Linked DNA regions of Homo sapiens. The protein of the gene in region 3 purifies or fractionates together with the protein of the main gene of each other region. This does not show direct contact. Each region holds a gene or a part of one and is shown on either strand. Other genes may lie near its edges. The genes, in order: GNAZ, UBTD2, PCDHGC3, VSIG4, GNAQ, DLK1 and ERICH5.

Region 1 (3,500 bases), on a different chromosome or scaffold from region 3:
GGCTTTGGCTGTCATGTTTGCTTTCTGAACTTGTCAGTGAGGAGATGACCCAGGTGTCTTCACAGATGGGCCCAAGGCTAGGCCTTTGCCTGCCTGCAGCCCTCTTGGCTCTTACTGGCCTGTGCCTGCCACCTTGCTGCCTCTCTCTCCTCTCCTTCTGCTCTAGCCGTGGTCAGCTTGTTTTGCTCCAGCAGTACTGCTCTGTCCAGCCTTAAGCTTGTAATGATCCTGATCCCTGCCTCTCGTACCCCTGCCCTTATCCTCCAGGTCTCATCCCAAGTGGCGCCTCCTGGGAGGCCTTTTCTGACCTAGCCCGGCACCTGCTTACTCCTCCATCTAGTGATGTGTGAGTGAGCTCCTCGGGGCAGGCCCTAGATGGGCTGGGTGGCCCCTGTGGGGCCTCACATCTCTAGCTTTCCCTCTCCCAGGCCTGTCCCTGGGGAGAGCCATGGTGGGCAGCCATGGGCAGGGACAGCAGCCACTGGCCTGGTCTCAGGGATCCCTGTGAGGTTCCAGGCATTCAAGGCACTTTCTAAAGGGAGGGGCTGGCAGCCAGGCTGGCACACCCACCACCATCACCCTGGTTTCTGCAGGCCTGGGGAAGTGGTTGTTCACCAGAAAAGGAAATTCTTGATGAGAAACCCAAGCGAGGCTGGAAATTCACTGGATTCCAAATGATTCTGACCTTTCATGCTCTACCAGTAATATCTGGAGATGGAAAACAAACAGGCTGCAGAGGAAAGACAATCCCCTCCCGCGATTCCTCCCGCAGGCTGGGCTGGCCCCGGAGGTGAGCTGGCCCCCAGAGTGGTGCCGGCAGTGAGGACAGCCCGTCTCCAGCCGGGCCAGGGCCAGAGCCAGTGCTGGCACGGGCTGGCACAGGGCTGCCACTCTGCTCTCTCCTTTTGGAACGTGCTGAACTGTCCTCCCTGGGCCCTGTCAAAGGCAAGGCAGCCAAGAACAGGCCATGCTCGTTTTCACAAAAGCCGAATGAACCTTGGGGCCCAGTGCCAGGGCTCTGGACACGGCTCCTCCATAGCCCTCCTTCCGTGCTCAGCTTCCAAGGCCTCATCTTCCCTGATGCTGGCAGTGCCTCCCCACCCCCACGCCTGGCGAAGGAGCCACAGCCCCCCGGCCCACCCGCTGGCTTCTGCGTCAGCACGTTGCCAAGGAGAACGTCAGTGTCTCTGGGCTCCCGGGTGTGAGGGCTGCAGTGAGTGCAGGGCAGCACCTCAGAGCAGGGAAGGCAGATTTCCGGGTGTCTGTGGAGCATGGCAGCGAGCCACATGGGGAGCCACGCCCCTCCATGGCCACGGTTCCCACCCTCGTCCGAAGGAATTGGCAGTCCCTTGCCCTGACTAGGGCCAAGTCCTGCAGGTGTGTCAGGCACCCCAGTGCCCCCAAGCCCAACACCCAGCTGGGGCTTCCTCAGGCAGCACAGGAGGCCTGAACACAGCCCAGCAACACAAGGGGGTTTTTCTGGCGCACCTGTCCCCTGAATGATCCTGTGGGGCAGCAGCGCCTGTTATTTTTGTCACAGATCGAGGCACTGAGGCTCAGGCACACAGCTGGCGCTGGCGGGCCCCCAGCCCTCAAGTCCACAAGGACAGCTCCTGAGAGGCCATGTGTCACAGGACCCACCACGGGCCTCCCACTTAGCCAGAGCCATGGCAGAGGCTCTGCCCCTCGTCTTTAGTACATTCACACAAGGGTCAGTCAGCAAAGACAGTCACTCTGCTGCCCTAGGAGGGAAAGGCAAAGTGGAGAAGCTGGCACCTACCAGCCCACACTGAGGGACAGACACAGGTGGCTGTGACCAGCAGAGCCTGGGTCTTCACTCGGCCCCACTGGAGGCACCTGAGGGGGTAGGTGGGCACTTGTTGCCCAACCTCTGCCCTTGCGGATCAGCTAATGGACTCTGCTGGCCACCAAATGGTGTGGGATCCTTCAGAAGGCAAGATTAAAAGGTCTAGTTGTAAAGCATCAAATGTTCTCATGTGGAAACCCACAGGGAGCTCACTGCCCATTTCCCGACGGAGCTGTCAGCATTCCCAGCCCTGTGGCGGGTCTGTTTTGCACCTGTGATGGACCTGCTGTGCAGGCTCAAGGCTCAGGCTGGGGCCAAGTATGAGGGTGAGCACAACTCTCCCAGCAGCACAGGGAACTGGGGGACAAGGAGGAGGCAGTCACACCAGCCCAGCTACAGCTTCATTTCCACAAAGCCTCTGCTACCAGGGATACCTGCCCTGTCTTTCTAGAGCTGGCAGGCAGCAGTTCCCAGCAGTGTCCCCATTGTGCTTTCATCTAGGACCCACAGTAGTCACTTGGGCCCCACAGGCAGGCTGGGTCACAGCAGGGTTCACCGTGGGAGGCCTGGTGTCTCTGCCACTTATCTGAGAGACAGCTGGTCAACATGTTATCAGTGAGGGTATCCAGGGGACGGGGGACATAAGAACATGCCTTTTGTGGGGCAAGTTCTGCAGGTGGCAAGTGCTTGAGCAGCCAGCCTCCAGGCAGGTGGTCTATGCCTGGCCCTGGATAGTGGTCCCTTGTCCTGGGGCCATTGGCTTCCTGAGGAACCCCTCCCCACTCCAGGGCAGGTCAGCAGCCTCAGCACACCACGAGGGCAGGTCCACACCCACCCGGCACAGCCTGTGCTCTGAGCAGAGGGCCTGGCACACAGTGGGTGCTCTGCAGACTTTGTGGAGCGGGCGGGAGGCGGTAGGCTTGGGAAGAGCTGGAGCTCCAGAGCCCTGGCTTCTGGGTGCAGAGCAGCTGGGACACTCAGCCCTTCCCAAGGAGACCCTATGGGTGCTCGTCCATAACAGGAGTGTATGCAGTACCCTGAGGAGGGGCTGCCCAAGGCCGTCCTGTGAACACAGCGTGTTCCTGCCACCCTAGCGCTGTGGTTTATCATTTAGCCCAAAAAGGGTGCTTGTTTTAGTGCTTTTAAAATGGAGTTTAAACATTTGTGCCATAAAATGGCGTGTTGTGGGTGAAACAAGGTGTTTCCAGTAAGACAGGCTTATACCTATTGATGACAGAGCTGGTTATATTTGCCCAAGGAGGGAATTACAAATGGGCAATAGCCAGACACAGATGATACCCTCTCCCCAGCATACCAGGGCTTAGATTGAGAAGGGACCTTATATATCCTTTAGTGTTCCTAACCAGCCGGCTTTGCAGATGAGGAAACTGAGCCTCAGAGAGGTTCCTTCACATACCGCAGGGCTGAGACTCTGGCTCTCAGGGAGGGTCCTGGCACTGGCCCCTGGGAATTCCAGTGGCCCCCCTCTTCACCATACTGGTCCCACATCCTGTGGGTGCTGGGGTTCTCCAGCAAGGGCCTTGGGGGTATAGACTGGGTTCCACCCTTGGAGCTGCTGTGTAGCCAGCCTTCCCTCAGGAGAGTGGAGGACAGTGACACCTGGGCTTGGGAGAGGTGAGTGGCTGTGAAGGTTGACACTCCCCTCGTCCCCTTGTCTCCTGGCCTAGTCAGT
Region 2 (4,415 bases), about 31 Mb from region 3:
AGTGGTAAGAGTTTTATATATTCTGGATATTGAACCCTTATCAAATATATGATATGCAGATATTTTCCCCCATTCTGTGAGTTGTCTTTTCATTCTCTCGATGGTGTCCTTTCATGTACAAAGTTGTTGTTGTTGTTGTTGTTTTTTAATAGAGTCTCGCTCTGTTACCCATGATGGAGTGCAATGGCGTAATCATGGCCTACTGCAGCCTCTACCTCCGGGGCTTAGCCAATCTTCCTGGTTCAGCCTCCTGAGTAACTGGGACCACAGGTGTGCACCACCACAGCCAGCTAATTTTTAAATTTTTGTAGAGACGGGGTCTTTCTGTGTTGTTGAGGCTGGTCTCAAACTCCCGGGCTTAAGTGATCCTCCCTCCTTGACCTCCCAAAATGCTGGGATTACAGACGTGAGCCACCGTGCATCACCTAAAGTTTGTAATTTTAATGATGTCCGATTTATCTATTTTTTTCTTCTGTTGCTTGTGCTTCTAGTTTCAGTTTTAAATATAAAGTAACCTTTCACTGATGTATACAGAATAGATCTATAGCCAATAATTTGCAAATCTCACAGCTAACATTTGCTTTCTCAACAAGAAGTGGAAAACTTTTATTTCCTCTGTCTGATCTGATGAAAGGTTATTAGCAGTGAAATGGTTTATAGAAGTTGACAATTCAGTTAACAGGGTAGCTAAAAAAGAAAAAAAGTTGACAAAAGTAATTCATAAATGTACTTCGTCTTCTTTTTGTTCCCTTCTTTTTTTTTTTTTTTTTTTTTTTTTTTTTTGAGACAGAGTCTGCTTTGTCACCCAGGGTGGAGTACAGTGGCATGATCTCGGCTGACTGCAATCTCCGCCTCCCAGGTTGAAGCAATTCTCCTGCCTCAGCCTCCCGAATAGCTGGGATTACACGTGTGCACCTCCACACCGGCTAATTTTTGTATGTTTAGTAGAGACGGGGTTTCACTGTGTTGGCCAGACTGGTGTCGAAATCCTGACCTCAAGTGATCCCCTGCCTCAGACTCCCAAAGTGCTGGAATTACAGTTGTGAGCCACTGTGCCTGGCCATTTTGTTTCCTTTTTTTGTCTTCTTCCTTCCCTCCCTCCCTTCTCTCCCCCTTTCCCTTTCTTCCGTCTTTCCCTCCCTCCCTTTCTTTGTCTCTGCACCCCAATAATGAACCTTACAAATGAAACCATCTGTCCTAAGGAACATAATGCAACTGGCCCACATTACGGGGTCAGAAGGCGTGGGGGACTGATCTTCACCCCAGTTGATTCTCCAGCTCAGTTTGTAAACTGATAGTACATGAGTCACATCCAGTCAACAAACATGCTTTGTTTGGCCTGTATGATGTTTTTAAAAACATACCAGATAGAAGAATGGTTATGAAGTAAAGCTTGGAAGTGGTTGTAAACAATACATGCATGGGGTAATCGTTGGTAAAGTGGCTGCTTTGGCTTGAGCAGTGTGTGTGAGAGAAAATGATGGAGAAACTGGACAGGTATTGCGTAGGATGTTAGTGTGGACTCTTGAAGAGAAGAGCTTATCTGATGAAAAGAATGTACTGACTGCTAAATATCATTCACTAAATATTAGTTGAACCACTATTATGTACTAGTTACTGGGATTACAACAGGGAAAAAAAAATCTCTGCCCTCAAAGGAATTTACAGTCTAGTATTTTGCTGCTCAGAAAGTTTTGTCTCTGGAGCAGCAATATCGGCATCACCTTGGGAGCATGTTAGAAATTCAGAGCCTTAGACCTACAGAATCTGCATTTTCACAAGATTCTCAAGTGATTTCCTATGTACATTAATGTTTGAGAAGCATTGGTATAGGATTGCCTAAAGTGGGAAGAGACTAGGATGAGGAACCCATGAGGGAAAAAAATGGAATGAGTTGGTGATTTATTGGATGTAGGGGTACAGAAGAGAAAAGGAGAAGTAAAATAATACCATGTTTATGAACCCGAGTGACCAGGAATATTGAGGTAGCTTGGCAGGTTTTGTGGAATAAGAAAGATATCTGGGAAAAGCCCTGGTTTAGCATTCAGTATATGTTAAGGTGTAGGTGACAGAAGAATGTCTAAGTGGAGTCACCATGTAGTGTGGTACGGAAATTTAGATAGGGAACTCCTAGATGCTTAGGGCTATGATTGTGGATTTTGGGATCAGCTGGGGTGAGTTGACTGAAGGTGTAAAAGTGAGTGACTGCTAATAAGTAAGTGAAAGAGGAGGAAAATACTAAGAATTGAGTCATGAGAGTTTCATAAAGGGTGAAGCAATAAGAAAATCACCTCTAATCAGGCCTGACACATAGTAAGTAGGTACTTAGTATACTGAATTTTGTTGAATTGGGAAAGAGGGAAGCAGGTCTCTGCTTGTGAAACTAATCTGGTTGTATTTAGAACGGATCATTCTTGTAATTTCAGAAAATAATTTGGTTCAGTAACTTGGTTCTAGCTGTGGTGTGATACCGTTTGGCTGTGTTCCCACCCAAATCTCATCCTGAATTGTAGTTTTCATAATCTCCACGTGTCATGGGAGATACCCAGTGGGAGGTAATTGAATCATGGGGGCGGTTACCTCCATGCTGTTCTTGTGATAGTGAGTGAGTTCTCACAAGATTTGTGGTTTTATCAGGGGCTTTCCCCGCTTTTGCTCGGCACTTCTTCCTCCTGCCATGTGAACAAGGACGTGTTTGTTGCCCCTTCCACCGTGATTGTAAGTTTCCTGAGGCCTCCCCAGCCCTGCGGAACTGTGAGTCAATTAGACTTCTTTCCTTTATAAATTACCTAGTCTCAGGCAGTTCTTTGTTTTTGAGACGGAGTCTCGCTCTGTTGCACAGGCTGGAGTGCAGTGGCGCAATCTTGGCTCACGGCAAACTCCACCTGCTGGGTTCATGCCATTCTCCTGCCTCATCCTCCCAAGTAGCTGGGACTACAGGCGCCCGCCACCATGCCTGGCTAATTTTTTGTATTTTTAGTAGAGTTGGGGTTTCACCGTGTTAGGATGGTCTCAATCTCCTGACCTCATGATCCGCCCACCTCGGCCACCCAAAGTGCTGGGATTACAGGCATGAGCCACCGCGCCTGGCCTCAGGCAGTTCTTTATAGTAGCATGAGAACGGACTAATACATAGTGTTTGCAAAAATTCTAGCTGTAGTTTGTTACTCATATCCTAAAACAAGGTAGACTTCTTAGGTATACAATTCCAGAATATACCAGTAGCCCTTTTGAGGTTGGTGTGGTTCAGGACAAACACATTCTCTGTAAGACTTTCTTCACCAAGAATGTCCAGTGTACTTCTTTCTTATGTATTTTCAGTGTCCATTATGTTCTACACATCATCTAACTGGTTTATTGAATTTTCTTATGCTTCTATTCTTTGGTTTGTGCCAATAGTAAAGAGTAAAACAGCCAGGTGCAGTGGCTCACACCTGTAATCCCAGCACTTTGGGAGGCTGAGGCGGGCGGATCATGAGGTCAGGAGATCAAGACCATCCTGGCCAACATGGTGAAAGCCTGTCTCTGCTAAAAATACAAAAATTAGCTGGGCATGGTGGCACGTGCCTGTAGTCCTAGCTACTTGGGAGGCTGAGGCAGGAGAATCGCTTGAACCCGGGAGGTGGAGGTTGCAGTGAGCCGAGATTGTGCCACTGCACTCCAAGCCTGGCGACACAGCGAGGCTCCGTCTCAAAAAAAAAAAAAAAAAAAAAAAGTAAAGCAAAATTGAGCATGAGGAGGACTGAAGATTTAGTCTCCTTGTATCCCTAGTGTGACAGTGGAGGTGAAAATCCTTCATATTTTCTGGGTCGGTGAGCTCTGGGGCTTTATGAGAGAGGTGCCTAAAATTTCATACCACTTTGGCAAGAGACTTTTAGGACATTTACATGATACAAAGCAGAAGGCAGCAAATTTTACTAGGAGGAGTGGAGTTGTAGGGAGGGGACCAAAAAGAAAATGGGCAGCAAGAAGATATAGGTTGAAAATACAGTGGTACTCTGGGTTGGCAGGTATGAGAACCTAATATATAGGTCAAGGAAGCTACAGTCGGAAAATATTAGACATGAGGAGAGCTGAATCCTCTTTGGGAAAAGTTTTAGCACTAGAGTTTACATTAAAAATTGACATAGGCCATTGTAGCTGCTTCCTGATCATCTACCTTCCGTTGGGCTAGTCCCACTCCATTTTCAATTTTCTATCAATAAAGGATTGGAATTTATGTTGGAAAGCCTTTTTTTTTTTTTTTTTTTTTTTTTTTTTGAGACGGAGTCTCACTCTGTCGCCCAGGCTGGAGCGCAGTGGTACAATCTCGGCTCACTGCAACCTCTGCCTCCCAGGTTCAAGCGATTCTCCTGCCTCAGCCTCTGAAATAGCCGGGATTACAGGCGTGTGCCACCACACCTGGCTAATTTTTG
Region 3 (4,415 bases):
ACATCATATAATTTCATCTTGGTCTCCACCATCTTTAACAGATGACTTTTTTTTTTTTTTTTTTTTTTGGAGACAGAGTCTCACTCTCTTGCCCAGGCTGTGGCACAATCTCAGCTCACTGCAGCCTTCGCCTCCCGGGTTCAAGCAATTCTCATGCTTCAGCCTCCTAAGTAGCTAGGATTACAGGTGTGCACCACCACACACAGCTAATATTTTGTATTTTCAGTACAAACAGGGTTTCGCCATGTTGGCCAGGCTGGTCTTGAACTCCTGGCCTCAAGTGATCCACCCTCCTCGGCCTCCCAAAATGTTGGGATTACAGGTGTGAGCCACCTTGCCCGGCCAGATGATTCTTTCATAAGGTCCACATTTTATATTTGAGTGAGTGTCTCTTAAGTATCTTAATGCTCTTTTAATGTAAAAGACTTCCCCTCCATCTTCCATTTTTGCAATTTATTTGTTGAATCCCTGCCTTTTCATATATATCTTTCTAAACTTTTCTTTGTGTAATCAAAGAACATGCATGAGCTTCATTTTTATTTTTATTTATTTATTTATTTATTTATTTATTTATTTATTTATTGATACGTAGCCTTGCTCTGTCACCCAGGCTGGACTGCAGTGGCGCAATCTCGGCTCACTGCAAGCTCCGCCTCCCAGGTTCACGCCATGCTCCTGCCTCAGCCTCCAGAATAGCTGGGACTACAGGCGCCCACTACCACGCCCGGCTAATTATTTTGTATTTTTAGTAGAGACGGGGTTTCACCGTGTTAGCCAGGATGGTCTCGATCTCCTGACCTCGTGATCCGCCCGCCTCGGCCTCCCAAAGTGCTGGGATTACAGGCGTGAGCCACCGCGCCTGGCCGAGCTTCATTTTAAAAAAATCTCATTCACCTAAATAAGTTGTTCACAAACTTGTCACACTTTCATGTGACACTTTATTCACATATTAAGAACTGTTATTCCCAGTCATACGGTACATTTCCTACTAGTTTTTTAAAAATAGCAACTGAGGCCATACTGTCCAACAGAATTATAGCTTTTTTCTTCTTTGCAGTGTATCATGAGAATTTCCCCATGTCTTTCAAAATTCTTCCCAAGTCATTTGCAGAGTAACTCCTCTTATGAATATACATATTATTTTACAGAATAAGTCCTCATATGAATATACATATTATTTTTCTAATGCTAATGGGCTTTTGCTACATTAGAAAACATACACATTCATTTACAATTTTTTTTTTTTGAGACAGTCTCGCTCTGTCTCCAGGCTGGGGTGCAGTGGCGCCATCTCGGCTCACTGCAAGCTCCACCTCCTGGGTTCAAGCAATTCTCCTGCCTCAGCCTCCTGAGTAGCTGGGACTACAGGCACGCGCCACCACGCCCAGCTAATTTTTGTATTTTTAGTAGAGACGGGGTTTCACCATGTTGACCAGGATGGTCTCAATCTCTTGACCTCGTGATCCGCCTGCCTCAGCCTCCCTAAGTGCTGGGATTACAGGTGGGAGCCACCATCCCCAGCCTCATTTACATTTTAACACAATTAAATTCAGGGTGTTGTCAGGGTGACTTCCTAGATTTCTCAGTTTTTTGAGCATGATGTAGGGAGTATTTTATTATAGTCCAGTCTATGGGATATTCCCTTATACACACACACACACACACACACACACACACACACACACACACACCCCAAACTCAATAGGGCAAGAACCATATTCATCATCTCTTAAATCCTAGGTCCTGTCACAGGCCACTGCTTGGAAAATAGTTGACTAAATGTAGTCCATTTCTTCCATTTTTACTTTTCACTATTCCCCAAATCCTGGAAGAGTCCCTCATATCTGCTGCTGGGGCTCCAAGGCCTCCAAGCTGAAGCCCAGTACGTTGTTGTGCATAAGATCATAGGCCCTGGAATCATATTAGGCTGGCTTTCAGGTTGCAACTCTACCAGTTCCAGCTGTGTGACTCTGGTATAGTCTCTCAACCTCTCTGAGCCCTGTTTTCATCTGTTGGAAAATATAGATAATCACAACACTTATCTGCAGGGTGATTCCGAGGATAAAAAAGACAAATATATTACCCAGTCAGCTTAGAATAGGAAGCTCTCAGTAAATGGTTAAAAAAGAGGTCTCTCTCCCTCTGCTCATCTCTTACCCAGCTTCACATAATTGGCAGCCCACCCACCTGTTTGGCCCTCAACCTTCAACCATTTCCCAGGACGCCTCCTTACACTCCTGATCATCATGGTTCCAACCCCACTGTTCCACTCAGCTTTGTTCCCTCAACACCACTGCTCCCTGTGACAGGTCATCCTCCTAACCTCTGGCATCTGGTCCCGTTGTCTCCCTGACAACCCGCATGCTCTCCTCCCTGCAACCCCCGCCGCTTGCCTGCTCTCCCTACTTTATTCCCATTAGCCCCCTTCACCTGGGGCTGAGAACACCTGGCCTTGACCCTGCACCCTCAGCCAGGCCCACAGAGCTCAGTCGGGCCGGAAGTAAGGACCCCAGATATTCAGTTGAGGAATTTAACATTAATACAATAATATAGAATCCACCAGCAGATTTTCATAAATGTTCTGTGTGTTCTTTTATCCTTTTTTTTAATCCAGGATTTTATCAAGGAGCATAGATTGCATTTGGTTGTCACGTCTTTCCTCTCCTTTAATCTGGAGCCAGCTCCCAGTCTTTTTATTTTTTTAATGACATGGATATTTTTAAAGAGTCCAGGCCAGTTGTACTTTAAAATGTCCCCGAACCTGGATTTGCTGGCTATTCTCTGATGGTTAGATTCAGATTACACACCTTGGTAGGAATACTTCCCGCAGCATCACACTGGGACTCATCTAACGTCGGCCTGTCCCACTATCAGTGATGCCGAGTTTGTTCGTGTGGTAAAAACAGTGTCCCAGATCTCTCCATTATAAAAATATATTTTTATAAAGATATTTTAAAATATTTGTGAAAATATAAGTAATCTGTGGATGATACTTTGAGATAGGCAGCAACCCTTCATGCAATTTTAGTATTCCCTGATGATCCTTGCCTGTATCTGTTTTTACATCAGTGATTACAAAGCGGTGATGTTCTGTCATTCCTTCTACATGTATTTGCTGGTATTCTTCTGAAAATTACCTGGATGATTTCTTCAGATTTAAATTCACTGTCTTTTCCTTGGGGAAGCCTGGACTGGCTGAGCTGCCTAACCCTGACTCTCTGTCTTTTTTTTTTTTTTGACAGGGAGTCTAGCTCTGTTGCCAGGCTGGAGTGCAGTGGCAACCTTCACCTCCTGGGTTCAAGCGATTCTCCTGCCTCAGCCTCCCAAGTAGCTGGGATTACAGGCGTGTGCCACCATGCCCGGTTAATTTTTTTTTTTTAATATCTATTTTAGTTGAGACAGGGTTTCACCATGTTGGTCAGAATGGTCTCGATCTCCTGACCTCGTGGTCTGCCCGCCCCTGCCTCTCTTCATACCCTCTGGTAGCCCCTGACACAGCCCATGGCAAGTATCACAATTGCAATTACTCTATTGTGTAATTATTTAAAATCAGCCTCTCAGTGCCCACCATGAGCACCGTAAAGATGGACAGTTTCTATCATACTCACAGCCACAACCCCAGCACCTGGCTCTGTGTCTGGTACATAGAAATTGCTCAAGAAAGAATTGTTGGAGGGGCGCGGTGGCTCACGCCTGTAATTCCAGCACTTTGGGAAGCGGAGGCAGGTGGATCATGAGGTCAGGAGTTCGAAACCAACCTGGCCAATATGGTGAAACCCCATCTCTACTAAAAATACAAAAATTCGCTGGGCATGGTGGCATGTGTGCACTTGTCGTCCCAGCTGCTCAAGAGGCTGAGGCAGGAGAATCACTTGAACCTGGGAGGCAGAGGTTGCAGTGAGCCGAGATCGCGCCACTGTACTCCAGCCTGGGTGACAGAGCGAGACTCCAGCTCAAAAAAAAAAAAAAAAGAAAAAAGAAAAGAAATAATTATTGAATCAATGGAAACAGAATTACAACTCTTCCCACTTTTGGGAAGGAGAATTGAGATTCCTGCTTTCCCCTTCAACCCTAGCTTTATGTTTGTTGTGATGGTATAGAGGTCACACATGGCAGCCTTGTGTCTGTTCTTAGGCTGAGTTCATCTACTTAGGGACGGGGAATCCCAGATTGGGCAAAACCAAAAGCAGGGACAGACCTTGGAAAAATTGTAAAGCAGTTCTTGGTTGTGCTCACCCACCATGACAAAATATGCACACACACAACGCAACACACACACAGACATTTTCATGCCTTCAAGGCCTACCCTACAGCCTTTCCCATGGTGCCAAACCCTTCTTCTTACCTTACAGTCACTTAACTGTCTCTGCTGGTCTCTTCCCACTCATTTAGGCAACAAATATTTATTGAAAAAC
Region 4 (4,415 bases), on a different chromosome or scaffold from region 3:
TCTAAGATGCTAGGTCAGGGGGGATAGAGAGGCGTGAGGAAAGGAACCTCAGTGTACTTAGGATTTGTTGCTGCAACTGGCTTGTTTTCATGAGACTCTAAGATATCGTGTCCTAGGAATCCAGTATTTGTGGTCCTCAGAGTGTCTTGTTGGGACTGAGAGAGCTCAAGTTATAAGCTGGTACAAATCGAAGAAATATTCTCTTTTGAAGAGAGTCAAGTACTAAAAAACTTGGTAGAGAAAATAGGGCGCAGACCCAACATCTAATAACTTTGCCCAAGGTTATTTTCTCATTTTTCCAAACCAACTCCCTATGAGGCAATTTCTAACTTCTCTTCTCCCAGTAGATGTTCTTCTCGGAGAGGAACGGAGCTATGGAAATCTTGAAGCCAAAGATGGCAATGCAAATGTGGAACATAAAACAGGTTTGAGTGCTGCCAAGGGATAGCCAAAAAACTCTGCAATCAGGAATGGAGAGTTACAAAGAGCATTTGGAAGTCCACTCTCTCAATTATACACAGGCAGAGAATGAGTACCAGGAGTGATAGTTATCAAACTATTTAATTCCAACCAGTCACAACAGATGCCTACTGTAGACTTGGAGTCTTAGAGATTCCTTGGTATACCTTTTGTTGCATGACCATGGGGGTGGTCTAGAGAGTTCTGAGGAATGGGACAAGGCAGCCCCAGGTAATAATGGAGGGCTCAGGGGTTAAGGGGAGCAGCTAATTATCAATTGGTGTGAGAGTGTTCTATTATTTCAACAGTCAATGTAGTCATGTGAAGGCATACCAACTGACTATCAGATGCAGGTGAAACACAAAAGATTTATTTGGGATTTGAATCTCTGAGACCCTGACTTGGGAATTTTCAAGGCTTTGGAGGAATCAGAAATCAGCTTCAAGCGGCTTGAAGAGCCCTGGTTAAGAGCTCAAGCAATGACACTCAGCCATTATCCTTACCTGGTTGAGGTCATGATGTCATAATGTCCCTATCCATATTCTTGCTCAGAATGTTTGGAAAGCATATTACTATGACAACAGAGAACTAAATAAAGGGCACATTTATCACTCCCCTTAACCTCACTCTGACTTTGCTCATCTCTGGATCTGTATCTCTCTCTCTACATCCTACCCACTTTACCCATCCTCAGTGCCCTTGACCATTGCTTGGCACATAGCAGGTAATGATTTGCAGATTTCAATGCTGTAGAACAGTGTGCATAAGGGAAAGTTTTGGTCACAAAGCTTAGAGTCAAGAAGAAAAGATAGAAATCCTGACAATATTCCTACCTGGCCCAGCACTGGTCTCTCCAAGGTAGCCATCCATGTCAGTGGTCCAGTCCCAGGACTGCTTCACTGTAGATGTTGCTATGAATATAGAGAATAGGGTCAGAGATGTCTCTCTTCTTTCAAAAAGTTGAGAGATAGGAGATGGTTGCAAAGGTTGGAGTCCTTCCCTGGCCATTTGTGCTGTACTTTCCAGGGTACCTGACCATGTTATCAACCACTAGTACCATGAGATAAGGCATCTTCATTTCTTACTGTTAGGTGTGGGCAGTGAGAAGAATTCCCATCGAGGGGAGGTAATGTACCCAAAGTCACACAGCAAGTCAAACTAGGAGCAGAATAGAATTTAGTGTTCTTGTTTTTTGTATTTCCAATGGGAGTAATTCTAACCCTCTCTTTCCTTTTGCCTCAGAAGTTTTCACAAAAAAAGAGTATATATTCATCATTGTTACCTTTCTTTTGTTTCCATTCCTTTACTGCTATGTTCTCTCTGAGGAACCAAGTGACTGTTTATTAGCCATTCCATGGCATTGTGATTCCTTTCTTGGCTACGATGACACCATTTTGAACCTCTACTACTTCCTCAGACTCTAGCAAAACTCACCTTTCAAGGGGTATGTCATGGTTGTAGGTGCCTCAGTCTTGGTCTTGAGTAGCTTTGAGGAGTCTGCAAGGAAAAGGGAACCGATTGAAGGGACCTGGTACCCTTTGGTGAATAGTTTAATGCCCTAGGGAAATAGGAAGTAAGTAAAGGCCATTCAGGTCCATACTTGGACCTGCCTCAACACTTCTGTCATGATGCTGGTAAGTCCTGTGTTGCTTGTTCATCTTTCATACATCAATCAAGGACAGAGTTTTTAACCCAGGATTAATAGATCTCGAAGGAACCTGTAGCTAGAGTTCAGAGAGTCAGTCAACTTGGATGGGAAAATATATTTTATTTTTACTAACTTCTAACTGAGACCTAGTAATTAATTCTCTTGAGAGAAACTTGGGAAGTATCATAAAGAAAGTGGCAATGGGTGACATCAGTGAAAATGGTGACATAATAACCTCCAGAAATTTACCCTTTAACAACATCAGTGAAATAATGCAAAATTTGACGTAATCAACTTTTTTTTTTTTTTTTTTTTTTTTTTAGAATTTTGCAAAATAGCCAAAGGTTTGCAGCACCTTAGACAGGATTTATGGAAGAAAAATATCCCAGTTTTGGTAAGAACAGCAAGCTTTGTGCTGTTTTAACTTCTCCTAGTCCCCTTACCCCTTCTACCTCAGAGGTAATCTTGAACATACAACCCCATTCCAGGTGCTGGAGTGAGCCCAACAAACTTCATTTTTGAATAATTGCCATTATTTGGCCTGTCTGGTGGTTCCCTGAAAGACCTGACTCAAAAGACTTGTTTTATTGGTCACCCAGTGCTAAGAGCCTCTCCCCAGGGATGGGGTAGCATTTGTCACACAGCTGCCTGAGGCAATGGATAATAGGCGAGAAAACAAAAAAAACTAACCAAAATAGCCTTAAAAATGGTTGAGGAATAAGATTTCCATAGGGATTTTGAAGAGTTCTGACACAGTTCTGGGAAACTAGGAGGCCACACACAAGCACAGGGCCATGTACCTGCTCAGAAAAGACATGAGAAAACCATAAGCTTCTCCCTCTTGCTAGCAGAGGAAACAGCATGCTCCGTTTTAGATGTGGCGAAACATATTAGTAGATAAGTCTGGATAGGTAGGCTGAAAACAGACTAAAAGGGTTTGGGCTTTGTTCTTTAGTTGGAAAGATCCATGGGGTGTAACAGAAGGTTACACCTTTTGAGAAAGGTTTACTTCCTTTTGAGAAAGGAAGCAAAAATTGTTCAGTCTATTTTTTTTGGAAATAATTCTGACAACAGTGTGGTAGGATTTTCAAAGGTAAGGCAATAGCATATTTTCCCCATTCATTAACAAATACAGTATTCATCTAGTGTCTAGTGTCTTCTTTGTGCCAGATACTTTGCTGGGCTCTGAAAAACAGCAATGAAGTAGACAGGTAGAATTCTGCACTCTTGAATTTTATAATCTAGTGACATAAAATATATACTCAATAAATATTGAATAAGTTGATGACTTCGTAAGAATGTATGAACATGGGGAGAACATTTAGAAGATGATTGAAATTGTTTTTTAAAAAAGAATATGAGACCATGAGGGTATAGGAAGAGAAAGAAAGAGCCTAATAAGGTATCTGATTCAGTAGGTGAATTCACAGCACTTGGTAATATTGATGATTATTTGACGATGCGAGGTAAAAGAGAAGGAGGAGTCAAAGGTACTGCTATGTTTTCTAACAGGTTTGAGGAACAGGTTTGGTGAGTAAAAGGTACGATCAGTTTTGAACACGCTGAAATTAGAAATGAAGCTGTCCAGAAGGTAACTAGACACTGGGATCTAGCAGTCAGGAAAAAATAAATACAGATAATATTATGGTTGGAGAGTCATCAGACTACAGGTGATATTTGAAGCCACAGAAGTAAATAAAATCTCCTGATAATATAGAAATACATGCAGAGATGAATAAGAATTGAGTCTTTGAGAACATTTACAATTAAGGAGTGAATGAAAAAAGAGCCAACAAAGGTGTCTCAGAAGGATCATTCAGGAAGGTCTTAGAAGAACCAAGATAAGTTGGTGTCATCAATAGCAGTGATTAAAAGAATATTGAGGTGGAAGAAATGGCCAACAGGATCCACTGCTACACAGATGTTGAGGAGGAAAAGTATGAATGGAGAGGTCTTGGGATTTGGTGATATGGAGGTTAATGATGACCCCAAATTACAAAGTTATGTTGTGGTGAATGAATTGAGAGGTTCAGCTGGTGGAAGCTACCTTCGTGAGAAGGTTGGTAGTGAACATAGGAGAGATGAGGTGGCAGATGGAGAGAAAGATTTTTGAAAAATAACATATATATATGTATGTATTAGGCTTGCATACTGACATATATACATATATTATACATGCATATCTATTTGGCTTAGGTAGAGGATAAAGGGTATTGCAGGGCATTGGAGTAGCTGATGTTAAGAGTTCAGGAGGAGGGGCTTGTTGTGGAGAGGAGCAAAGCATACCTTACTCTGAGCCAAGAGGAAA
Region 5 (4,415 bases), on a different chromosome or scaffold from region 3:
CGTCATTCAAGAGAATATTTTCCCTAAGTTTGTAAGTAGTGCTATATTTATGTTGACTTTTTAGTTTTACTTTATATGTTATTAATATGAGTATTGTTAACCTTGCAGAATGGTCGATGTAGGGGGCCAAAGGTCAGAGAGAAGAAAATGGATACACTGCTTTGAAAATGTCACCTCTATCATGTTTCTAGTAGCGCTTAGTGAATATGATCAAGTTCTCGTGGAGTCAGACAATGAGGTAAGTGTTCTTTAGACAGGCAATGGATTATCATTTTATTATCTGATACAAGTAAATGATAGAAAGTAGGGTGTGGGGAATGGAGTGAACTTACTTCTTTGCTTTCTTGAAATTTGATTTTAGGACTTTTAAAATAACCAAAAATAATCCTGTGGTAAGCTCTTCTGTCAGATGTGTGAGCAGGTCTTTGTGTTCAAATCTAATTAGAGCCTATTTGATACTTTTTAACACTATGCAGAGGTTCTGAAAATGAAAATAACATGGAAATCCTAGGCTAATCATCAGATCATTTTATAGTCTTCCTCCTACAGGATAGAACTGGGAGTGTTGGAGTGAGTCATCCTGTTTTGTTTTGTTTTCATTTTGTTTAAATCATTGTTTGTGTGATGGGTGTGTCCCAAAGAGTACTCAAAATCTCTCTTGGCAAATGTGAATGACTTCGCAGCTGGGCTCTAAATCAGTTCATTATGAACCATGGAATATCTTGGTGATGCGGCCTTTCTGCTCTTATAGAATTCTCTAGGCTGTTGCATAATTTTGTCTCTATTAAGCAGTGAGCAGTTGAAGAAGTATCCTTAATATGCCTGTCTGGAGAACAATTTCAGTATTGTTATCTCCTCCCTGTTACAGGGAAACTTAATAGGTGTAAATGTGGATTTTCAGGATGGTAAAGACCTGACGATGAATCGATTATGGAATATATTAAGGGATGTAGAAATCTGTACTTCTGAGCTGTAGTTGTGTGCATGTGTATGTGTGTGTTGGGGGAACGGGGAAGACACCATTGATATCCTGTTAGAGGCAGAGATTGCAGTGTGGTAGGTTAATAATAAATATTAAATATCCCAATAATAGGGTAGCAAAAAAGAAGGAAGTGAGAGATCCCCGTTTGCTGACTAAAATAGGATCTAGCATATTATGCTTTTAATACAGTACATTTTTTAGGTACACAAGAATTCCTGACTGGTTCTTTTAAATATTTTTCTGCCAGTATTAATATCTCCATTAAAATACATATCCAAGCTCCTATAGTATTTCTTTTATGTATAGGATTGATAAAGTTTCCGTGAACCAATGTCTATATAGAACCGAGAGTCACCTGTTCATGCATTTCGGAATCATTCCTGAGTTACAAGTATATTGGCTTTGGAGTTAACCAAATAACTTCTGTTTAAGAATGAGGCTTGTTTATCAATCAGTTGCCCCCAATAACTCTAAAGCAAAGTGCCTAAAAGCATGCTACAATATATGACAGTAAGTTACCAAGATACAAGGCAGTTACTGTCAGAATTTTAGCTATGATATCTTTATCTGTATATCTTTATGTCTGTGCTTGTTTGTTACATAATCCCTGGATGTAGTATTTTAAACATACTGCATATTTTGGGAGCAGATCTATTCTAACACTTCTGATTTTTTTGAATGTTGTGTCAAGACAAAAAAATATTTTGAGGGCTTCCCTACTATATGCTGGGTACCAGAGTATCTAAAAAGACACAAAAATGGGGAAAAAAATCAACTCTGCCCTAGAAGACCTTATAAACAAGATATGCTTTTGGTCAGAATAAGCCATAGGGGGAAAGGTAAGCCTTTGTTATGTAGGTTGTCATTTCTCTTCTTTAATTTGCCATCCAGTAAAATAAAATTTGCATTTATCAATTACACAAGAGATGTAAGAAGCAAATGTGAATTTATTTCTGATGTTTACATTATAGCTAGAGGAGGACAAGTGTTTATCAATACACATTTTCCACAAGATAAATGCATTATATATATATGAAGAAGTATATGTCATGATGTAATACTTATCAATTTACCACTTCAAAATTATCAAAATAGAAAAGAAAGTAGAATCCTTTGGCAACTCATCAGCTAATTCAGTTCAACCGAATTGAATCTGGTTCTTCAGTTATCTGAACATTACAGATCATTTATTCCATTTTTCCTCAGACATAGCTAATAGTGACTAGATTTTTATATAAAAGTATATTATGTTAATTAGAATAAAATGGCATCGTTTTTATTATCATGTGTCATAATTAAAGTTCCCACAGTAACTTGACATTCAATGTACAGGTACTAAGAACGTCTAAAAATATTGTCCCAGTTCCTTTGATTCCTGTGGTGATGTCTTATGCTACTTTTAAATAATTACAAATTAAAATAATAAAGCTATCATTTTTTCATTAGGACTCCCTAATCACTTGTGAATCTTTTGAAAGTCTAGGTAATTCTATAAGATGAAAGTCAACTTGTACGGTGTTCCTTTCTGAGACCTCTAGTCAAGCCTGATGATAGTATGGGATCATGAGAAAAGTGCTGTTCATTAATTCCTTCATCCATATTAGCCACAGCTATCACTGTCTGTAATTAGGAAGTACTGTCAAAAAAATATTTTTTAATGTTGGGATGTAGTCTCATTACCCCTTTTTTTCCCCAGTTGTACTAATGTATGATAATGTCATTGCCTCTCAGCTTCCTTAATCATTAAGAAAATTCAGAACTACAGAATTCTAGTTTCCCCAGATTTTTTGGTTTTGGTGAGACAAAACTGAAATAAACTCCAGAAACATTTTGTTCTTGGTTTAGAAGTCTGATGTTCATAACTTTAATCCAAAGCAGACTTTGTTGTGCCTCCCTCCCTTGGTATATATTTGTGAGAAAAACCTAGGAATGGATTCTGACAGCTTTTCTTTCTATCCCAGGAAACTGTGGAAAATGCATTGCAGACCACAGACAAAAGCAGCTAAGGGAAGCATTTTAGATTATTGCTTTTGCTTTTTAATATTTCTAAAACCTTATAAATCTTCATAATTTTATGTAGGTCTGCTTTTGTCTGCCTAGATTCTCAGCCTTTCTATTGTTTGGGGAATGAATTTCTTTTTTCCTTCAAAGAAGGAAATACATTATCAAATAGTGGCTAGAATACCCAGGGTGGTAGAGCTGTGTTGATTTGCGTATTCCCTTTACTGTCTTATTGATGTGTGTATTCCCTTTGCTGTCTTATTTTCCCTGTGATAACACACCAGCATGGAATCCACTATTCTGCTGTAATCCTTTCATGGGTATGTTATTTCAGTGCTCCTGAAAGCCCAAAGCACACAATAAGACATGCTTATAACATATTTTAGTTTATCAGTGTGTATCCAAACACTGCCTTTTAATCTTTATTTTTCTGATTTTCTGTTTCATGAATATCTGAGCACTACTACAAAGATGTTTTCTCAGACATTGTCTCAATGACTGTCTTCCAGGCTAAGCTCTTTATAGAATCTCAAAGACTGAGACCTTTTTCTCCTCCATGTCCTCTTTGAATGTGAGCTTTGAATTTATTAATCATCTTGAAATGGTCATGAGGAATTATGTTATCATTTTATTAAAACGTCAAGATAGTTCTCCCTACCCTAGGCCCTCCTTGATCAAGGTGGATTCCCTGACCTTGGTTTCCATAAACATGTATTCATCCTTCAAACCTGATTTTTGAAGTTGCTCAATTGATAAAAGGAAAGCATAGACGTTTATAATACCTTAGCACTTTATACCCAAAACTTGCTGAAGCTGCTACTCATCAGAATCTACCAGCTGACCTCACCGTGGCGGGGACAGATCAGGTTTGCTGGTGTGCGTCATAACGATGAGGTTACAGGAATGAAGAGATGAAGGCCTGTGGCCAAGGTCACTGAAGGCCAGGTCCCCTGCCCTTCCAGACCAGCTTTCTTTCCCTTCCCTCATAGTGTCTTCTAGATGTTAGAGACAAACTTAAAGAAAAAGCAAGAGGAGCTATAAGGCAGCAAAGAGGGTGGAAGTAGAATGAAAATCCTGCCCTTTCATGAAGGAGTTGAAATAACTCTCCTCTACCTCTAAGCTCTTCTTACACCAATTGGTAGTAGTAGACCAGCCAGAGATCCTTTACCAGTCATTTAGAGTTCCTGTATTGCTCATTTGATTTTGAACTATCTTTAAACAATTAGTCTAAAATATGCATTTCCTTTGGATCCGTCTCTTCTGGTAGGTTTTAAAATGAAGCCATTTTGAAGTTACTCAGCTGCAATCAAAATTTGAACATTTTCTTTAAAAGTGTGAAACATGTACTTTGTTCTGCTCTAAAAATTGTTGAGTGAGCTTTTGGGAATTTTCTTCAGATAACATTCAGCTTTGCGGGGAAAACCTGACTAAA
Region 6 (4,415 bases), on a different chromosome or scaffold from region 3:
ACTCAAAATGAGATGAGATGGTGACTTATGAATGACTTCGTGGGGAAGGAAGAGGGACTTGGGGCGGTTGTCAGAGATTGGGGTGGAGGACCCAGGGGTTTGGGGTGAGGGAAGGGAGGAGAAGGGTGGGGGTGATAGGAAGGGAGGGCTGGTGGAGACAGGAGGGGAAGGGTGGGGAGAACGGGAGGGGAAGGGTGAGGGTGATAGGAAGGGAGGGCTGGGGAGGACAGGAGGGGAAGGGTGGGGGATCAGAGGGGAAGGATGACGGGGATCGGAAGGGAAGGGTGGTGGGATCGGAGGGGAAGGGTGGGGAGAATGGGAAGGGAAAGGTGGGGGTGATAGGAAAGGAGGGGTGGGCTAACAGGAGGGGAAGGATTGGGGGACGGGAGGGGTAGTGGGGACGGGAGCTGGAGAAGGGGAAGGGGCTTGCCAGTGATGATGGTGGTCGGTGGGGTGACAGGGTTTTTGGGGTGAGGCTGGGAGGGGCTGGGGACGCGTGCTGTGGGACTCAGGGCTGACGGTAGGGAGGGGCCTGGTGGGGACAGAGGCGGGTAGGAGGGGCTCTGCAGAGTGCAGATGATGCGGAGGAGGCGGTGAGGGTGGGGCGGGGCTTGGAATCAGGATGACAAAGGACCGGGAGTGAGGAGACCAATGGCTTGGTGGGGAGAGTGGGGTGTTGGGAGTTTGGGCAGATGCTGGTCGGGCTTTGAGTCAGGATGAGGGGGCTTGGGTAGTGGCTGGAGGACGATGAGGTGATGAGGTCGATATTGTGTCATGACGATGGCGCAGGTGACCAATGGATGGGTGACTGTGAGTTGTGTGTGGGTGACTGATGTGACTGACTGTAGATGACGAAGGTGATGATGACTTAGAAATAAACACCTGGAGCAAGGTAAACACGGCAGGCAATGCTCAATAAAGCTAAGAGTATAGATTCTTATCCAAATAATCTAAGAAGCAAAATATTCCTATCTGGTACCCAAGGGCTGTTTAGCTGTCCAACCCCAAAAGCTGAAAAGCTAAACAGAGCTCTGTCCCATTTCTTTCTATTTTTGCAAAAAAGATAGATGCTCTTTGTTAAAAAAAAAAAAAAAGTCAAATTCAAAATTCAGAAGCTGGCTAGGTCTTTTGAGATCTGAGGATTATTAACTCAGCAACACAAATGTAAACCCATGGCTGTGTGGGCCAGGTCTTGGACCACATTTGCCACAAAACTAGTAAGCGCCCCACAAGTGACAATTTCCACTAATCCCTGTGAAAACCTTGGTGAGGGCTGTGTTGCTGCTCAGATTCTGCCAGGGGCACTTGCGGCTCAAAGTACATTCAAGTCTCAAGGGATGTCTCTATAGGGTAGAGGCAGGTATAGTGTTGGGGTTCTGGGTGGGCAAAGAGGGGTGGGGGAGGGCTGGCTGCCTAAGTGGCAACTCCAGATGGCACATTATGACTCAAAGGGGCTATTTTTTCCCAAAAGGGAAGTGGGCCAGGAGGCTCCCCACTTTGAGAAACACAGTTAGGATAAATTTCAACATCAAGCGTTCATCCAGGATAGGCCAAAACCTTTCGGATCCCAGGATGAGAATTCGTCTTCATCAGATCCCAATTGTTGGGGTCAGGAAGTGTTTTGGTTCATACCCCCTCGTTCCTAATTCAGAGTTTTAGAGCCAGAGAGGACCATGGTGGTCGGTGTTCAAACCCCTCCCTCGAGAGGGGCGAGAAAGTGGGCCCAGGATTGGGATAGGGACTCGCCAAGGATCACACAGCGAGTTAGTGGCAGGGCTGGCACAGAGGCCCGGCCCCCCAGCAGCCAACCTGGGGCTCTCTCTGACTGACACACAGCCGCTGCACTCCGCTAAATCTCAAATCAATCGGAAAGATCTAAAGGTAGCGATGTTGAGCTGGATGTGAGTGCGAGTCGGATGTGGTGTGTGAGAATTAACGAACGAAAGCAATCGTAGCTCTTTGCACAGTGGGTGGTCATGTACAGCACTCGTAACGGTTTCACGAGGACCATGTGGCCGAGACCCCCAGGGTAGGGGCGTCGGCACTGAGCCCTGGTTCTGTTGCCTTGTTTTTTTTTGGTCTTTTTTGAAATTTCATTTGAGTTTAGATTTTAGAATAACATACTTATTTCTCTTACTCATTTAAAGATGAAATTCTTATTATTATTCTGTATCATGCATTAAGAGAGAGAAAGAGGATTGTTTTTGCATTGCGTTTGTCACACAGCAGCACAAAGACAATATATGTAAGCGTAGCGTTCACCAGATTTGACACAAGAGATAGCGAACACCACAAAGATTAGGACAGACCGCGTATAGTAAGCTCTGCGGAACTCCAAGAATCTAGAGGGGGCTGTGGGAACGCTGCTTAGATCTCCTCGTCGCCGGCCTCCTTGCTGAAGGTGGTCATGTCGATCTTCTCGGGGAAGATGATGTTGACGGCCAGGTCCTCCCCGCTGTTGTACTGAAGCAGCAGGTTCTTCTTCTTCCGCAGCATGTGGTTGTAGCGCAGGTTGGACACCCAGGTCTCGCACTTGTTGAGGAAGACGATACCCACAGTGCCCAGCACCACCAGGCTGGTGAGCACGCCCAGGATGGTGAAGCAGATGGCCTGGCCCTCGGTGAGGAGAGGGGTTTTCTTGTTGAGCTCTTTCATGGACACCTTCAGGATGCGGTGCTCCGGCTGCTGCACCGGCAGCTCGTGCACCCCAGGGGTCAGGCGGTAGGCCAGCCCATAGCCGCTGGGCAGACGGGTGACCTGCTGGGGGCTCAGCGCGCGCTTCTTGACACAGGTGAGACCTGTGAACTCGGGCTTGCACAGACACTCGTAGCTCACCTGGGTGTGCTGCAGGCAGGTGCCCCCGTTCTGGCACGGGCTGCTGGCGCAGTTGGTCACCGGGCGGCTGCAGGTCTTGTCGATGAAGCCGGCTGGGCACCGGCAGCGGAAGTCGCCCCCAATGTCAGTGCAGACGCCGTCGTTCTCGCATGGGTTGGGGGTGCAGCTGTTGGCCACGATCTCGCAGAAATTGCCTGAGAAGCCAGGGGGGCACAGGCAGGAGGCATGGGAGGCCCGGCCCTCATCATCCACGCAGGTGCCTCCGTGCTGGCAGGGGGAGCTGCAACACAACAGGGACATAGTAAACGGCCTCAGGGGCTAGGCTACAACAGCGCTGCAGGGCACGGGGCTCAGGGCAGAAGGTCCCTGGCCTGACTAAGGGGCAGGTGCTTAAAACACATCAGGTGAATGAGGGAGCGAGGGAGGGAACGCCAGCCAGGGAGGCACAGAGAGGTGCCCGGGGCCGTGACCCCTGTCTGCGAGAAGCTCACCAGTAGCTCTGGGGGTGGGTGGGTGGGTGCCCACCTCACCCCCATCTCGATGCTAACCTGGGACACACCCGACCTCCCATGCCAGGATGCCCACGTCCTCTCCCACCTCTTACTGCACCTCTCCAACCAGAGGTTAGTCTCCAACCGGTTAGTCACTAGCCAACTGGGGAAACTGAGGCTAGGAGAGGAAAAGTCAGTGACAGCCCAGGACTGGAGCAAGCCCCCTTCCCTTAGCTCCATCCCTGGACTGCTGGGGCAGAAGAACCAAGCAAGGGGCGCCCCTCACTCTATCCCGGGACCCGCTGTCGTCCTTCATGCCTATGTCCACTGTTGCCGCCAACCCTCATTATTATTATTATTATTATTAGCGGTGTGGATCCACAGGCTATTGTGCAGGAAGCGCTTGGGGACTCTCAAAGAGAAAGCAATACGAGGTCTGTCTACGGTGGCACAAGCCAGCGTCTGTACCAGGCTGTTTAATAGTGGTCCATTCACCCAAGTGCAGCTTGCAAACCAAAGCTGTTTGCTCAAAGTGGAGTACAAGGAGCATTTAATGTAAGTGCTTTTAAACGAGCGAGCCCTTTGTCATCCGATAAATGGCAAAACTCCGGGGAAGAAGGGGCAGTAAACACAAGAAATCAGCACTGCTGCTTCAGGGTGTGGGCTGCATGGGAGCTGGGCTCTGAAGGAATTTCAAGGGCCTTAGGCTCTATTTTGACACACTGGTTTAAGTCCATTCGCGAGAAAAGCAAAATATTTTAAAGGTCTCGCTCTGTTTTTCTCCTTCCTGCTAATAAGCAGAAATGGAGTTCAGTCTTCACCAGCCCCCACTCTGACCCCGTCTGAAGACTGATCTTTGGAAGCCCCGTTAATGTCTGTTTACAGCTCTTACAGACTACTGGGGTCTCTGTGCCACCCTGCGATGTCCGGTCAAGATAAGCTTATTTGCATGTTAGCTTCTGTTTCTTCAGAGGAAAGGGACACCCCTGCCCCCCAACTACAGGCCCAGGACTGGGTTCAAGTTTGGATTCTTACATTCGGACCCTGCCTCTGTCAAGATCTCCCTTGGCTTCAGGCTAAGCCCCATCC
Region 7 (3,686 bases), on a different chromosome or scaffold from region 3:
AGAAAGAAAGGAAAGAAAGAAAGAAAGAAAGAAAGAAAGAAAGAAAGAAAGAAAGAAAGAAAGAAAGAAAGAAAAAGAAAAAGAAAGAAAAAGAAAGTCTAATTTGTATCTAAATCAAAGGGTGGTCCAGGGGTGCCCCTAAACCTGTCTGGCTTGGCCATTATGTGTTTAAAAACAATCGTTAAACATTTACAGACAGCCAACACTAACAAGTCTGGACATTGCACACACTTGCAGGAAACCCTGTTTCCCTGAGAAGTTGGCTTTGGCAACATTGGCCCTAGTTCCATGGCTGGAGCTGTGCGGAGCTTCCTCTTTTGACAAGGCTGTGCTCTCCTGTTTGCCAAGGTCCCCTGGGCTCCCACAGTATGACATGTGTCCTTCACCTCACTCATTTTCAGTATCCTAGGCCTAAAGACTTTTGAGTTTGCCAATCCTGATGTAAAAACTACCTGCTTTTATTTGCCTCTCCCAAGTTGTTCCCAGGGCCCTTCTTACACATTCTTAGGAAAGCAGTTCCCACAACAGACTATGGTGATGCACGCACATCCTGCCTTCCCACACTAGACAGTGAGCCCCTTGAGGACAGAGACTATCTCTTCCTCAGTCTGCATCTCAGCACCTAGCATATGTTTAGGCATGCCAAAAAATGCTGAGTTAATAAATGAAAGAATTGGCCAGACATGGTGGCTCATGCCTGTAATCCCGGCACTTTGGGAGGCCGAGGCGGGTGGATCATGAGGTCAGGAGCTGGAGACCAGCCTGGCCAATGTGGTGAAACCCCGTCTCTACTAAAAATACAAAAACTAGCCGGGCATGGTGGTGTGCGCCTGTAGTCCCAGCTACTCAGGAGGCTGAGGCGGGAGAATCGCTTGAACGCAGAAGGTGGAGGTTGCAGTGAGCCGAGATCACTTCACTGCACTCCAGCCTGGGCAACAGAGCAAGACTCCATCTCAAAAAATAAATAAATTAATTAAATAAAATAAATAAATGAAAGAATTAAACAAAAACAGATGGATGATTATAATGAATGCTTCACTTAAGTATACTGAACTGTGAAGCTAAAATTTACCAAAATGTAAATCATACCCCAGAAGAAAATATTTTTTTAAATTATAACACCAATAAAGAACACTGTAAACATCATTTGTTTTATGCTGGTAAAATACAGTTAAAATTTTAAAACACCATATGCTAAGACATAGTACATTTTCTCTGGTCTTCTCATACAGATTTTAAAACTGCAGAAGAACAAGAGCAGACTGACAGTCATTTTCTTTTTCCTTTTTTCTTTCTTTTTTTTTTTTTTTCTGGAGAACAAGGTCTCACTATGTTGCCCAGGCAGGTCATGAACTGCTGGGCTCAAGCTATCCTCCCACCTCTGCCTCCTGAAGTGCTGGGATTACAGGTGTGAGCCACTGCACCCTGTCCTGACAGTCATTTTCTAAGATAAGCTTCACAAAGATGAAAATAACATTCTAAGATCCATTATGTATATATCATTTCATTGGAAGGTGAATTCCTCCAGTAATCATCTATTCACCTTTACTTTGGATCCTGATTTCATACATGGGGCCTGATGAAGTGTCAACTTGGAAAAATTCAGAAAGTTTCACATGTTGCCTTCAATGTTAGACACTATTTAAACACTAGGTTAAAATTTTGGACAGAGATGATGTTTCGGAAAAGTTTTGCTGACAAACTGAGCATTAATAGAATGCCTCTTTCCCAGGCACAGAAGCCTTTTTGGTTTGGTCAAACGAACTTCAACCACCTGAAAGTGACTTCAGGGACTGTGTGTCAGTCACCCCATCCCACTCCCCAGAGCTGGTCTCCTATGGAGCACATCTAAACATCCAGGTTTGCCAGCATAACTTTTACCTTCAATGCGTTGGTCCTCTTCATTAGTATGGATGTTCCTGATCATTTCCACATATGCTCCTGCCTCTACATTTCGTGCTGGATGCTCCATGCTTCCAACTATTCCTTCAGGTTGAATCTGCTCCATGTTTCCTGGACCTTCAGGAGTTTTATGGAATGGATCATTCATAACAGGCTTTTCCACAAGCTGACTTCTGTCCAATACTTCTGGTGTTACATTCTCTTTGGGAATTCTTTCTAGAAGCTGGGGCTGCTCCTCTTTTCCCAATGTTGCCTGAAGTTGCTGCTCTTCAGCTGTTTCCACAAACTGACTTCCTTCCAATATTTCTGGAGATTCATTCTCTTTGGAAATTGTTTCTAGAAGCGGGGCCTGCTCATCCTTTCCCACTGTGCCCTGAGGTTGTAGCTCTCCAGCTATTTGCAGAGTCAGAACGTTCTCAGTTGTTCCTAGAGGCTTCATCTCTGCAGCAGTTTGTGGATTCTCAGTGACCTCCACTGCTCTGAGAGAGTCCTTCTCTACTGCTGCCTGCAAAGGCTGACCCTTGGCTTCTGGTCCTAAAGGCTGAGCTTCAGCATTTCCTTTTAGAGACTCGGCCTCTGTCCCTGCTCCTGCATCTTTCTTCTTTCCTTCTGCTGCTGGGGCATCCTCTTTGCCACCTGGTTGAGGCGGCCCAGATTCCTCCAGTCCCTCTCCAGGCTGAGTCTTTTCTGTGGACCCTGATTGGTCTGTGGCATCCCTTCCAGGGGCTACGTCCTTGGCCAGGGGCTGTTCTTGGAGGGGTTTAACACCATTAGCTGTAGGCTCTGCTGAAACCTTGAGCTTTTGTAAGGGAGGACGGCTTTCCCTTTGTACATTGCCATCAACAGTAGATTCTCTTCCCAGTGCATGTGGCTTTGGTTGGGCAAAGCAGGACTCACTTTCTTCTGCAGTTGAAAAATGCTCATTTGAAGTTACTTTGGTTATTCATTTGAAAAAGAAAAAGAAAAGAGAAAACACAAATTATTGTTTAGTTTTATCTTGAAAAGTGAATTGACATCACAAAGTAGATTTAACAGTTCAAGACAGTTCCAAATATATCTGAGTACAGAAAGGCCATACCATGACCCTAACACTCTCCCAGTCAAATCCCTTTATTGTCTTCAGCTCAAACATTTAATCTTAAGCGCTGAAGTCCTCCAAAACCACAGTTTTCTCCTGTTTGCTCCTTGTGCATCTTTTCATGGCTCCTGTCCCAGATTCTAACTGAGCTTACTCTGTTTCTCTCTTCTTTTCCTTGTCTCACACTTTCTCCTCTTGAGACTTAGAAGGTTTCCTTTTTAAAAAATTTTTTTTCCATTTTTGTTTTGGCGGGGAGGGCAATAGAAGATTCCCAAACTTAGAAGGTTTCATGATGCGAGGTCCTTGGGCTGCTAGAGAGGTCTTACTTTCCTTCTAACACAGGAAAGCCCCCAGCAAATGGAAAAAGGACTGTGGCAGAGAAGCCCTAATAGGTAAAGGCTAAGATGTCTGGGAAGGGAAGTAGCAGAGACAGTTCAGCCTGAGTTTCATGTCATTTGGGGGGCACAGTGGGAAAAGAAATCAACAGAAAGCAGAGAAACATGCATTTTACTTCTGGCCATTGTTCCAACTGTATGAGCTTGGAAACTTAGCTCCCAATGATCTTGTCTCTAAAACAGCAGTGAATCTCTCTTCTCTCCTTCATATTGATCTCAGAGTTGCATGAGGCGTGATAGTTTAAAAGATGCAAAAGTGAGTTGGATAGTTTAAGATAAGCAATATGTTTAAGATTGGCAATATGTTAATA

The links.
Region 1: the proteins of PCDHGC3 (region 3) and GNAZ purify together in Homo sapiens (affinity purification with mass spectrometry; 2 studies listed by BioGRID and IntAct, with this or other methods). This does not show direct contact.
Region 2: the proteins of PCDHGC3 (region 3) and UBTD2 purify together in Homo sapiens (affinity purification with mass spectrometry; one large-scale study listed by BioGRID and IntAct). This does not show direct contact.
Region 4: the proteins of PCDHGC3 (region 3) and VSIG4 purify together in Homo sapiens (co-immunoprecipitation; one large-scale study listed by IntAct). This does not show direct contact.
Region 5: the proteins of PCDHGC3 (region 3) and GNAQ purify together in Homo sapiens (affinity purification with mass spectrometry; one large-scale study listed by BioGRID and IntAct). This does not show direct contact.
Region 6: the proteins of PCDHGC3 (region 3) and DLK1 purify together in Homo sapiens (co-immunoprecipitation; one large-scale study listed by IntAct). This does not show direct contact.
Region 7: the proteins of PCDHGC3 (region 3) and ERICH5 purify together in Homo sapiens (affinity purification with mass spectrometry; one large-scale study listed by BioGRID and IntAct). This does not show direct contact.

The regions. Positions count from the first base shown.
Region 1 is NC_000022.11:23,098,019-23,101,518, forward strand, and holds part of GNAZ (guanine nucleotide-binding protein G(z) subunit alpha), read left to right. Parts: intron 1-593; coding exon of another isoform or gene 594-794; exon of another isoform or gene 795-3,500. UniProt on the Homo sapiens protein: Guanine nucleotide-binding proteins (G proteins) are involved as modulators or transducers in various transmembrane signaling systems.
Region 2 is NC_000005.10:172,273,436-172,277,850, reverse strand, and holds part of UBTD2 (ubiquitin domain-containing protein 2), read left to right. Parts: intron 1-4,415.
Region 3 is NC_000005.10:141,499,644-141,504,058, forward strand, and holds part of PCDHGC3 (protocadherin gamma-C3 isoform 1 precursor), read left to right. Parts: intron 1-4,415. UniProt on the Homo sapiens protein: Potential calcium-dependent cell-adhesion protein. May be involved in the establishment and maintenance of specific neuronal connections in the brain.
Region 4 is NC_000023.11:66,026,157-66,030,571, forward strand, and holds part of VSIG4 (V-set and immunoglobulin domain-containing protein 4 isoform 1 precursor), read right to left. Parts: intron 1,957-4,415; coding exon 1,894-1,956; intron 1,371-1,893; coding exon 1,293-1,370; intron 1-1,292. UniProt on the Homo sapiens protein: Phagocytic receptor, strong negative regulator of T-cell proliferation and IL2 production. Potent inhibitor of the alternative complement pathway convertases.
Region 5 is NC_000009.12:77,790,286-77,794,700, reverse strand, and holds part of GNAQ (guanine nucleotide-binding protein G(q) subunit alpha), read left to right. Parts: intron 1-108; coding exon 109-238; intron 239-4,415.
Region 6 is NC_000014.9:100,732,849-100,737,263, reverse strand, and holds part of DLK1 (protein delta homolog 1 isoform 1 preproprotein), read right to left. Parts: intron 3,116-4,415; coding exon 2,368-3,115; 3' UTR 1-2,367. UniProt on the Homo sapiens protein: May have a role in neuroendocrine differentiation.
Region 7 is NC_000008.11:98,088,225-98,091,910, reverse strand, and holds part of ERICH5 (glutamate-rich protein 5), read right to left. Parts: intron 2,836-3,686; coding exon 1,882-2,835; intron 1-1,881.